Linked DNA regions of Homo sapiens: region 2 is linked to region 1. The links come from fine-mapping of genetic effects on gene expression. A gene starts in region 1. The other region holds a variant in brackets. All regions are shown on one strand. Distances are from middle to middle.

Region 1 (5,368 bases):
TGCAACCTCCGTCTCCTGGATTCAAGCTATTCTCATGTCTCAGCCTCCCAAGTACCTGGGATTACAGGCGTGCGCCACCACACCTGGCTATTTTTTTGCATTTGTAGTGGAGACGGGGTTTTGTCATGTTGCCCAGGCTGGTTTCAAAGTCCTGGGCTCAAGTGATCCACCCGCCTCGCCTCCCAAAGTGCTGGGATTACAGGCATAAGCCATCACATCTGGCCTCCAACACCTTTCTTTTCTAAGGAAACCAATCTCACATCAATTGTACTGATTCTTAGAGTCAAGCAGACCTGGGCTGAGTCCCGAGGCTGCAACTGACCAGCCATGGGACCACAGGCTCATTGTGTATTTAAGATAGCTTAGCCACTATTTCCTGTTTCCCCAGTTATGAAAGGAGGAGGTTGAACTGGGTGGAGTATCCTCAGCCCTGATAACAGACATCAGTCACTGAGGGAGGGGAGATTAATATTCTGATTCAATTGGTGGGGGGTGGAGATAGGGGGTTTAAAAGCTCCTAGGAGGCCGGGCGCAGTGGCTCACACCTGTAATCCCAGCACTTTGGGAGGCCGAGGCAGGCGGATCACAAGGTCAGGAAATCGAGACCATCCTGGCTAATACGGTGAAACCCTGTCTCTACTAAAAATACAAAAAAAAAAAAAATTAGCCGGGCATGGTGGTGGGCGCCTGTAGTCCCAGCTACTTGGGAGGCTGAGGCAGGAGAATGGTGTGAACCCAGGAGGCGGAGCTTGCAGTGAGCAGAGGCGGCGCCACCGCACTCCAGCCTGGGCGACAGAGCGAGACTCCGTTTCAAAAAAAAAAAAGAAAAGAAAAAAAGCTCCCAGGAGCGTCTCATGAATTCATGAATAGCCAGGGTTTGGAACCACTTCTCAGCCTTCAGGAACCTTCAGGCTCTGGCACTTAGAGCCTGGATGGCTTATTCTAGGACTTCTGCAGAAATATCTTGAACCTTCCTGCAAGTTCCCAGGCAGCTTGGAGACCTCTTTTCTCAAGACATTTGTGTCCTACATTCCCACAGGGCTCCAACCCTCCTCAGTTTCAGATTTTTTTTTTTTTCGAGACAGAGTCTTGCTCTGTCGCCCAGGCTGGAGTGCAATGGCGTGATCTCGGCTCACTGCAACCTCCGCCTCCCAGGTTCAAGTGATTCTCCTGCCTCAGCCTCCCAAGCAGCTAGGATTACAAGCATGTGCCACCATGCCTGGCTAATTTTTTTATTTTCAGTAGAGACGGGGTTTCTCCATGTTGGCCAGGCTGGTCTCGAACTCCTGACCTCAGGCGATCTGCCCGTCTTGGCCTCCCAAAGTGCTGGGATTACAGGCGTGAGCCACTGTGCCCAGCCAGTTTCAGATTTTCTAAGGTTCTGCAACTGCCCAAGGAACTGGCCTGAACCACCAAGAATTCTTCCCCAGAAAGGAAAGATAGCCCCATGTTCATGCTAGGACAACACAAAAGCCTATTTTGTTTTGCAAAGTAATGTTCTCCAGGATAGCTTTTAAGAAAATAGGCTCTGGCATGTGGATAGGCAAAAATAGAATAAAAATTCCTAGCAAATAGAGTGTAATCCTGTTAGCATAAGAGCGTGCATTGGCTGGGTGCAGTGGCTCACGTCTGTAATCCCAGCACTTTGGGAGGCCTAGGTGGGTGGATCACAAGGTCAGGAGATCGAGACTATCCTGGCCAACATGGTGAAGGCTTGTCTCTACTAAAAATACAAAAATTAGCCAAGTGTAGTGGCGGGTGCCTGTAGTCCCAGCTACTCAGAAGGCTGAGGCAGGAGAATCGCTTGAACCTGGAAGGTGGAGGTTGCAGTGAGCCGAGATCACGCCACTGCACTCCAGCCTGGGCGACAGAGCGAAACTCCATCTAAAAAAAAAACCGCAAAAAAAAAAAAAAAAAAAAAAGCGTGCATTTACGTTTATAACTATATAGCCGTAAATGAATAGAAGAGACATCAAGAAAGGTGGCTGGCCACCAGTATGTTGACAGTAATTCTCTTTTTTTCCTTTGCCCTTTTCAGTTTGAGTTTTTAGTAAACAGGGGCGCTTATTTTTATCCTCTGAGAATAAAGCTATTTCCTTTCTGAGCTATAGTGGTAATTTACATCTAAGTGGGAGAAAGGCTTATGAAGTTTGGGGTTCCTTTATTTTTCTAAGCCTAAAATCTATTATCTAGTAAGTTGCTGGTGTTCTAGAATAACGGTGAACAAGAAACATTTAAACATTTGTTCACGGTGAACCTTTTATAAAAATAGAACACGTTCTAAGGAAGCCATTCATCCTCATTTTAAAAATTAAGAAGCAGGCTGTACCCTCCTGTGACCTCCCCAGCGTGGAGTCTGGAGCTGAGATGGAGGACACTGACCCCAAGTCACCCAGCCTTGGGGCCGGTTCTGCTCCGTAAGTGGAAAGGATCTGGAGCCAGGGCTGGAAGAATTCCCGTGGGGGCTCGGAGATTCAGCACCGTGGGGGAAGGGAGGGGAGTGGAGGGTGCTGGGCAGTTGCAGTGGGGAGGAGAACCGGTGTCACTTTCGCTGAACCTGACCGCAGCCCCCAGCGCAGTGGCCCTTATAGACACTCCGCTGGCGCTCTCAATCCGCGTGCCAAGGTCAAGGAGGGAGGTCACACCTGCGCGCGGCCAGAACAGATGCACCGACCCCCACCTGCACCCTCGCCACAGCCGGCGCCCCTTGCCCAAGTTCCTGCAGCTCTGACCCAACCAGGAGCCCCGACCCCAAGCACCTGTTCCCCCTCCTCTAAACCCGCGCACGCCTCTCCTTCCCCTCCCCCAGCTTCATCGTCCTGGGGGCTTCTCCCCCGGGCTCACCCCGGCGTGAGAGAACCCCACGATTCTAGCGCCTGCCTACTCCCACGATGCAATCCTTGAACCTGTCCCTCGCTCCCTCCACCACGCACGGGCTTCCCCTCTCTGCGACCCCCGAGCTGCCCCGGCCCGCGCCACCCGCTGCCGGTCCCCTCCAGCCCCCCGCCCCGGCTCACCTGGCTCATACTTGAGGTAGAGGATGGAGACGATGAAGTAACTGAGGTCGAAGACGGGGAAGAGCGGCACCCGCGAGAAGCTGAGCGCCAGTTCGCCCAGGCTCAGCGCCGAGAGCAGCTCCATGGCGCCCGCCTGCCCGCCTGCCGGGTGCCACCCGGGGCCCCGGCCTCGTCCGTCCCGCCGCCCGCGGCCCGGCGACTGCGCCCCCGCAGCTGGGCCCGCCCCCGCCCGCCAGGCGCCACCCCAGGCCCGGCCCCCGCGGGAGAGGAGGGGCGACGGCCCACCCCGGGACAGGTGGTGGGGACGCCCAGCACCACGGACGCAGCTGGACGGTCGGGCGTCCCAGGCGTTGACCCTCCTGCCATCGCTACCCCGTTCCGCCCAGCGAGGCGGGGTGCGGGGCACCCGTGCAAGGCGAGGGAGGCTGGGGAGCTGCCTGTTCTGGGGGCCCGTCCCTCACGGAGCCCACCCACGCGGGACGCCCGTTCCCAGGGGGCCGGATCGGCCAGGACTTTGTCCCCGTGGGCTCAATTAGGACCCCGATCTTCGGTGGAGCCCAGTGAGGACCCCTACGCCATGGTGGGACCCCATGAATCAGAACCCCTGTTCCCCGTGGAGATAGGTTAGGACCTCGGTCCTCTGTGGAGCCCCGTCAAGACTTTTCTGCCCCATAGGGTCCGTTCGATCAGGAACCCCGTCTCCGGTGGGGCTCTGCAAATCAGGACGTCTTGTGGGGGGCAGCTCAGTGGGAACCCCCGTTCCCCATGGGGCCCAGGAGGATCTCATTTTAGAGCCCAGTTGGTTGGGGCACCCGTTTCTAGGGACCCCACTGCGTCAGGACCCCGCACCCTGTGCAGCTCAGGAGTCAAAGGATTCCTTTTGTCCAGAAGCCCAATTTGGGACCCCAGAAAGTGAGTAGGAATTGCTGCCCAGCTAACCCTACGGCATCGAGACCTCACGCATGCGCGGCACGCTTCGAACGCGTGACCCAATCCCGCCCCCAGGAGACCCCGCTCCTCCCATTCTGGCTCTCGGGGCCTCCCCAGCGAGGTGGGGCGCTCGCGCTCCCCTAAGGGGGTCTGGCCTGCAGAGGGCGGGACCCTCCCAGCCTTGACCTTCGATTGGCCCAGCCCTCGCCACTGTTGCTTTAGGATTGGTCGGCTTGTGCTCCTCTCCCCTCCCTCCCTGGGGCTTCCGCTTCCGGTTCTGACGGACGCTTCGGCCGTAACGATGATCGGAGACATCCTGCTGTTCGGGTAATTAGGGGGACCAGAGGCTGGGAAGAGAGAGCCAGGCAGGACGCGGGGGCGCCCCTAGTAACTGTAATTCTCCCTCTGCAGGACGTTGCTGATGAATGCCGGGGCGGTGCTGAACTTTAAGCTGTGAGTAGGTCGCGGCCGGACTGCGGCTCCATCCGGGGAACCCGTAGCCCCGCCCTCATAAGCGTGATCTCGGCGCACTTCTCAGGCCCCGCCCCCAAGCCGCAGGCCCCGCCCTATCCGCCCTCTGGGCACGCCTCCAGCCTGGTTTATCTTCCTCGCCCCCCACCCCCCGAGAGACCTTAAACCCATACTCTCCGTTCCTTGGTTGTCCCTCTGTTCACCTTCCTGGAGAGCTTAAGCCCCATCCCCCAAGAAATAGCCCCACCGCGGACCTTCCGCCCTGCACCCGCACTGTCGGGCCACTTTGTAAACGGTCGGTGGCTGCTGACCTGGCTGTGATTGTCCGGGCAGTGGGGGCCCAGAGAAGGGTATTGAACGTCAGAGGTCACACAGCAAGTTTGCGGCAGGGCCAGGGCTGAAACTTAGTGTTTGTGGCCTTCTGAGCTGGGGGTCAGGGGGCTGAGGACTCTATGTCCCATTGAAAGTGGACACTGTCTGCTCCTCTTTGTAGGAAAAAGAAGGACACGCAGGGCTTTGGGGAGGAGTCCAGGGAGCCCAGCACAGGTAAGGTCTAATTGGATCCTGGAATTGCATGGTCCACTTCAGAGGACAGTTCTGTTTCGCCAAGCCCTACCTTCGTTTTCTTTCTTTCTCTTTTTTTTTTTTTTTTTTTTTTGACACAAGGTCTTGCTCTGTTGTCCAGGTTGGAGTGCAGTGGTGCGATCATGGCTCACTGCAGACTCGACCTCCTGAGCTAAAGTGATCCTTCCACCTCAGCCCCCTTAGTAGCTGGGATTACAGGTGTGTGCCACCATGCCAGGCTAAATTTTGTATTTTTTGTAGAGATGGGGTTTCTCCACGTTGCCCAGGCCGGTCTCGAACTCCTGGGTTCAAGTGATCCCTGCCTTGGCCTCCCGAAGAGCTGGGATTACAGGCGTGAGCCACAAGTTTTCTCTTTAATTGAGCGT
Region 2 (5,368 bases), 35 kb before region 1:
CCAGTCACTCCTCCTAGCCATCCTAAGAGGAAATTGAGGCTCAGAGAAGGGGAGTTACTTGCCCAAGCTACGTATCTCGGAGATTAAAAGCCAGGGTTTGGCCAGGCATGGTGGCTAACACCTGTAATCCCAGCACTTTGGGAGACCGAGGCGGGTAGGATCACTTGAGGTCAGAAGTTCAAGACCACCCTGGCCAACATGTTGAAACCCTGACTCTACTAAAAATACAAAAATTAGCCAGGCATGGTGGCTCTTGCCTGCAATCCCAGCTACACGGGATGCTGTGGCAGGAGAATCACTTGAACCCGAGAGGCGGAGGTTGCAGTGAGCCAAGATGGCACCACTGCACTCCAGCTTGGGCAACAGAGTGAGAATCTGTCAAAAAAAAAAAAAAAAAAAAAAACAAAGACAGGATTTGAACAGATTTGGGAAACCCCAAAGGCTGCTCTCTTTTTCCTTTTCTTTTTAGATTAAGGTAGAATTTAGCCACAAAATTCTGCAAGGTTTTTTTTGTAGTGTTTCTTTGTGGGTTTTTTGTTTTGTTTGTTGTTTGTTTTTTTGTTTGTTGTTTTGAGACAGGTCTGGCTCTGTTGCCCAGGCTGCAGTGCAGTGGTGCAATTTCGGCTCACTGCAACCTCTGCCTCCCAGGCTCAAGTGATTCTCCCACATCAGCCTCCTGAGTAGCTAGGACTACAGGCACATGCCACCATGCCCGGCTAATTTTTGTATTTTTTGCAGAAATGGGGTTTCACCATGATACCCAGGCTAGTCTCAAAGTCCTGGCCTCAGGTGATCCTCCCACCTCAGCCTCCCAAAAGGGCTACGCTGCCGGGCGAATTCTGCAAGTTTATACAAACATATACAGTTGTGTAACTACTGCCACGTTAAAAATGCAGAACAGTCCCTTCCCTCCCAAAATTCCTCTGTCTCTCTTGTGGATAATCTCTCCTTCCATCTCAACTCCTGGCAGCCACTGATCTGTTTTCTATACTTAAAATTTTGTCTTTCCTTTTCTTTTCTTTTTTTTTTTTTTGAGACGGAGTCTCGCTCTGTCACCCAGGCTGGAGTGCAGTGGTGCACGATCTCAGCTCACTGCAACCTCTGCCTCCTGGGTTCAAGCAATTCTCCTGCCTCAGCCTCCTGAGTAGCTGGGACTACAGGCACCTGCCACCCCCAGCTAATTTTTGTATTTTTAGTAGAGGCAGGGTTTCAGGCTGGTCTCAAACTCCTGACCTCAAATGATCCACCCACCTCGGCCTCCCAAAGTGCTGGGATTACAGGTGTGAGCCACTGCACCTAGCCCAAAATTTTGTATTTCTAAAATGACCTACAGCCGAGTATGTGGCACGCACCTGCAATCCCTGCCACTCAGGAGGGTGAGGCGGGAGGATCCCTTGAGCCTGGGAATTTGAGGCTGTAATGATCCATGTTCCTGCCACTGCACTCCAGCCTGGGTGACAAAGCAATACCCCATCTCTAAAGATAAAATGTCCCGCCAATGGGAGCACACAGTCTCTTGGGTCTGGATTCTTTCATTTAGCAAATGCATTTGAGATTCAACCACACTGCTGTAGAAGGTCACTCCTTTTCATTGCTGTGTAATGTTCCATCACATGCATAAACCAGGTGGCTCATCCGCTTACCAACTGATGGACATTTGGGATGTTCCCAGTTTTTGGTGATTACCAAAAAAAAAAAAAATAGGTGAATTTTTGTTTCACCACAATGGGACTGTTGTGTTTATAGGGTAAGTGATGTTTAATTTAATAAGAAACTATCAGGGATTGTTGTGTTTATAGGGTAAGTGATGTTTAATTTAATAAGAAACTATCAGTCTGGGCAAGGTGGCTCACACCTGTAATCTCAGCACTTTGGGAGGCTGAGGCAGGAGGATCACTTGAGCCCAGGAGTTTCAGACCAGCCTGGGCAACAGGGCGAGACATCATCTATATAAAAAATACAAAAATTATCTGGATGTGGTGATGTGTGCCTGTAGTCCCAGCTACTCAAGCGGCTGAGGCGGGAGGATCACATGAGCCCAGGAGGTCGAGGCTGAAGTGACCTATGACTGCACCACTGGACTCCAGCCTGGATGACAGAGTGATACCCTATCTCAAATAAATACATAAATAAATAAATTTAAAAGAAACTGTCCAATTGTCTCCCACCAGCAGTGTGCGAGCTCCAGCTGCCCCCAAATCTTTACCTGCACCAGGCATTGTCAGTTACTTTAATTTAATCCATCCTTAAAGGACGCTGGACACAGAGACTCACATCCCTTTGTTTTGGGAGACCAAGGTAGGAAGATCACCTGAGTCCAAAATTAGCCCCAAGGTGATGGTATTAGGAGGTGCGGCCCTTGGGAGGTGATTAGGTCATGAGGATGTGGCCCTCATAATGGGATTAGTGCCCTTCCACAAGAGGCCCCCAAGAAACTCCTTGATCTTTCTACCATGTGGGGACACCAAAAGAAGACACCATCTGTGAACCAGATAGCCAGCCCTTACCAGACAGTGAATCTGCCAGCATTTTGATCTTGAACTTCCCAGCCTCCAGAACCATGAAAAATAAATTTCTGTTGTTTACAAGCCACCAGTTTATAGTATTTTGTTGTAGCACACTGAAAGGACTAAAACAGGAGATAAGGTCTTTTTTTTTTAAATTTTTTTAGCACCAAACTGATTGAGATAAGGTCTTTAAAGAGACAATTAAGTTAAAATAGTCAGTCAAGCAGGGTGGCTCACATGCCTGTAATCCCAGCACTTTGGGAGGCTGAGGTGGGTGGATCACTTGAGATCAAGAGTTTAAG[A/G]CCAGCCTGGCCAACGTGGTGAAACTCCATCTCTACTAAAAATACAAAAATTAGCCAGGCATGGTGGCACGTGCCTGTAATCCCAGCTACTCGGGAGGCTGAGGCATGAGAATCACTTGAACCCGGGAAGTGGAGGTTGCAGTGAGCCGAGATGGCGCCACTGCACGCCAGCCTAGGCCACAAAGCCAGACTCCATCTCAAAAAAAAAAAAAAAGATAATTAAGTTTTAAAAAAAGTCTATAGGTGGGCCCTGATCTAATTCACTGGTGTCCTCGTAGGCAGAGGAGACTAGGATACAGACATACGAAGAGGGAAGACTATACGAGGACAGAGAAGGCGGCCGTCTGCCACCCAAGCAGAGAGGCCTTGAGAAACAAAACCAACTGACACCTTGATGTCAAACTTCCACCCTCAAGAATTAGGGAAAAATAAATGTCTGTGGCTTAAGCGACTCTGTCTGGAGTATGTTACTGCAGCCTATTCATTTATTTATGAGACAGGGTCTCACTCTGTCATCCACGCTGGAGTGCAGTGGTGCAATCTCAGCTCATTGCAGCCTCGAACTCCTGGGCTCAAGCGATCCTCCCACCTCTGCCTCCTGAGTAGCTGGGATTACAGGCTCACATCACCACAACTGGCTAATTTTTTTTTTTTTTTTTTTCTGCAGAGACTGGGTCTCACTGTGTTGGCCAGGCTGGTCATGAACTCCTCAGCTCAAGTGATCCTTTGGCCTCGGCCTCCCAAAGTGCGGGGATTACAGGCATGAGCCACCATGCCCAGACTTTTTTTCCTTATAATTGAAAGCTTCTTTTTTTATAGCTTTACTGAGGCATAACTGATAGATGAACTATGCATATATAAAATGAAAACTTTTAAGTACTTAGGTTGAATGAGTGGGAAAAAAAGAAGTAAAAAATAATTAATTAAAAATAAATAAAAAAGAGGCCGGCGTGGTGGCTCAAGCCTGTAATCCCAGCACTTTGGGAGGCTGAGGCAGGTGGGTCATTTGAGGCAAGGAGTTCGAGACCAGCCGGGCCAATATGGCAAAACCGTCTCTACTAAAAATACAAAAATTAGCCAGGCGTGGTGGTGGGCACCTGTAATCCCAGCTACTCTGGAGGTTGAGGCAGGAGAATTGCTTGAACCCAGGAGGCAGAGGTTACAGTGAGCCAAGATTGCACCACTGCCCTCCAGCCTGGGCGACAGAGCGAGACTCTGTCTCTCTAAATAAATAAATAAGAAAAAAGTTAATTTTTTTTTAAATCTTAAGTAATCAAAGCAAAATTTAGACCAGGCACAGGCACGGTGGCCCACGCCTGTAATCCCAGCACTTTGGGAAGCCGAGGCGGGCAGATCACCTGAGGTTAGGAGTTTGAGACAAGCTTGGCCAACATGGTGAAACCCTGTCTCTGCTAAAAATACAAAAATTAGCCAGGTATGGCGGTGGGCACCTGTAATCCCAGCTACTCAGGAGGCTGAGGCAGGAGAATCACTTGAACCCAGGAGGCAGAGGTTGCAGTGAGCCAAGATCGTGCCACTGCACTCCAGCCTGGGTGACAGAGCAAGACTCCATCTCAAAAAACAAAACAAAACAAAAACCCAAAAGTAAAATTTAATAGATTCAGACATGGGTATAGACCCAAGAAACCAGCACAATCAAAGCCATCAGCAGATCCATCACCCGAGTTTCCTGGTGCCACTGCAAAATTCCTCTCACCTGCCCTACCCTGTCCTTCTTTCCCCAACCACATGCTGATCAGCTTTCTGTTACAATAGTTTGCTTTTTCTAGGATTTCAGATAAATGGATGCCTATATTACACATTCTTTTTTGTATGGCTTTTTCCCACCAATCTGGATACATTCGAGACTCATTCATGTTTTTGCATGTTCACCACCTCCACCGCCTTTTTTTTTTTTTCGCTGAACAGTAGGCAATACTATGGGCGGAGCACAGCTGTTCATTTATTCACATTTTTGTTTTTTTAAAGACAGAGTCTTGCTCTGTCACCCATGCTTCAGTACAGTGGCACCATCACAGCTCACTGCAGCCTCAACCTCCTGGGCTAAAACAGTCCTCCGTCCTGCACCTCCCAAAGCCCTGGGATTATAGGTGTGAGTCACCCATGACCACCCTATGTTTAACTTATAGTGTTTTTGTTTTGTTGGTTTTTTTTTTTTGAGACGGAGTCTTGCTCTGTCACCCAGGCTGGAGTGCAGTGGCGCAATCTCAGCTCACTGCAACCTCTGCCTCCTGGGTTCAAGTGATTCTCCCGTCTTAGCCTCCTGAGTAGCTGGGATTACAGGCAGGTGCCACCATGCCTGGCTAATTTTTGTATTTTTACAAAATTACACCTTGTTGGGGTTTCACCATGTTGGTCAGGCTGATCTCAAACTCCTGATCTCAAGTGATCTGCCCACCTCGGCCTCCCAAAGTGCTGGGATTACAGGGGTGAGCCACTGTGCCAGGCTAACATTTTGTTTTTTGTTTTGTTTTGTTTTGGTTTTTTTTTTTTTTTTTTTTTTTTTTTTGGAGATAGAATCTTGCTCTGTCACCCAGG

Evidence for each region. PIP is the estimated chance that this variant, and not a neighbour inherited with it, causes the effect.
Region 2: its variant is the best candidate, but not a certain one, in a credible set for the expression of TMEM38A in sun-exposed skin (GTEx, PIP 0.78).

What each region holds. Positions count from the first base shown.
Region 1 is chr19:16,658,991-16,664,358 of GRCh38, reverse strand. It overlaps TMEM38A (transmembrane protein 38A), which reads right to left and starts at 3,220. Exons shown (of 6, transcript NM_024074.4): 1 at 3,018-3,220. The coding sequence starts at 3,141. It overlaps SMIM7 (small integral membrane protein 7), which reads left to right and starts at 4,215. Exons shown (of 5, transcript NM_024104.4): 1 at 4,215-4,274; 2 at 4,359-4,400; 3 at 4,912-4,964. The coding sequence starts at 4,249. RefSeq lists an enhancer at 2,059-2,867 and silencers at 3,153-3,402, 3,423-3,622.
Region 2 is chr19:16,693,603-16,698,970 of GRCh38, reverse strand. No RefSeq gene overlaps it. Among named protein-coding and RNA genes, the nearest start is that of NWD1, 24 kb to the left of the region's middle. The variant A/G (reference allele first, on the strand shown) is at 2,810.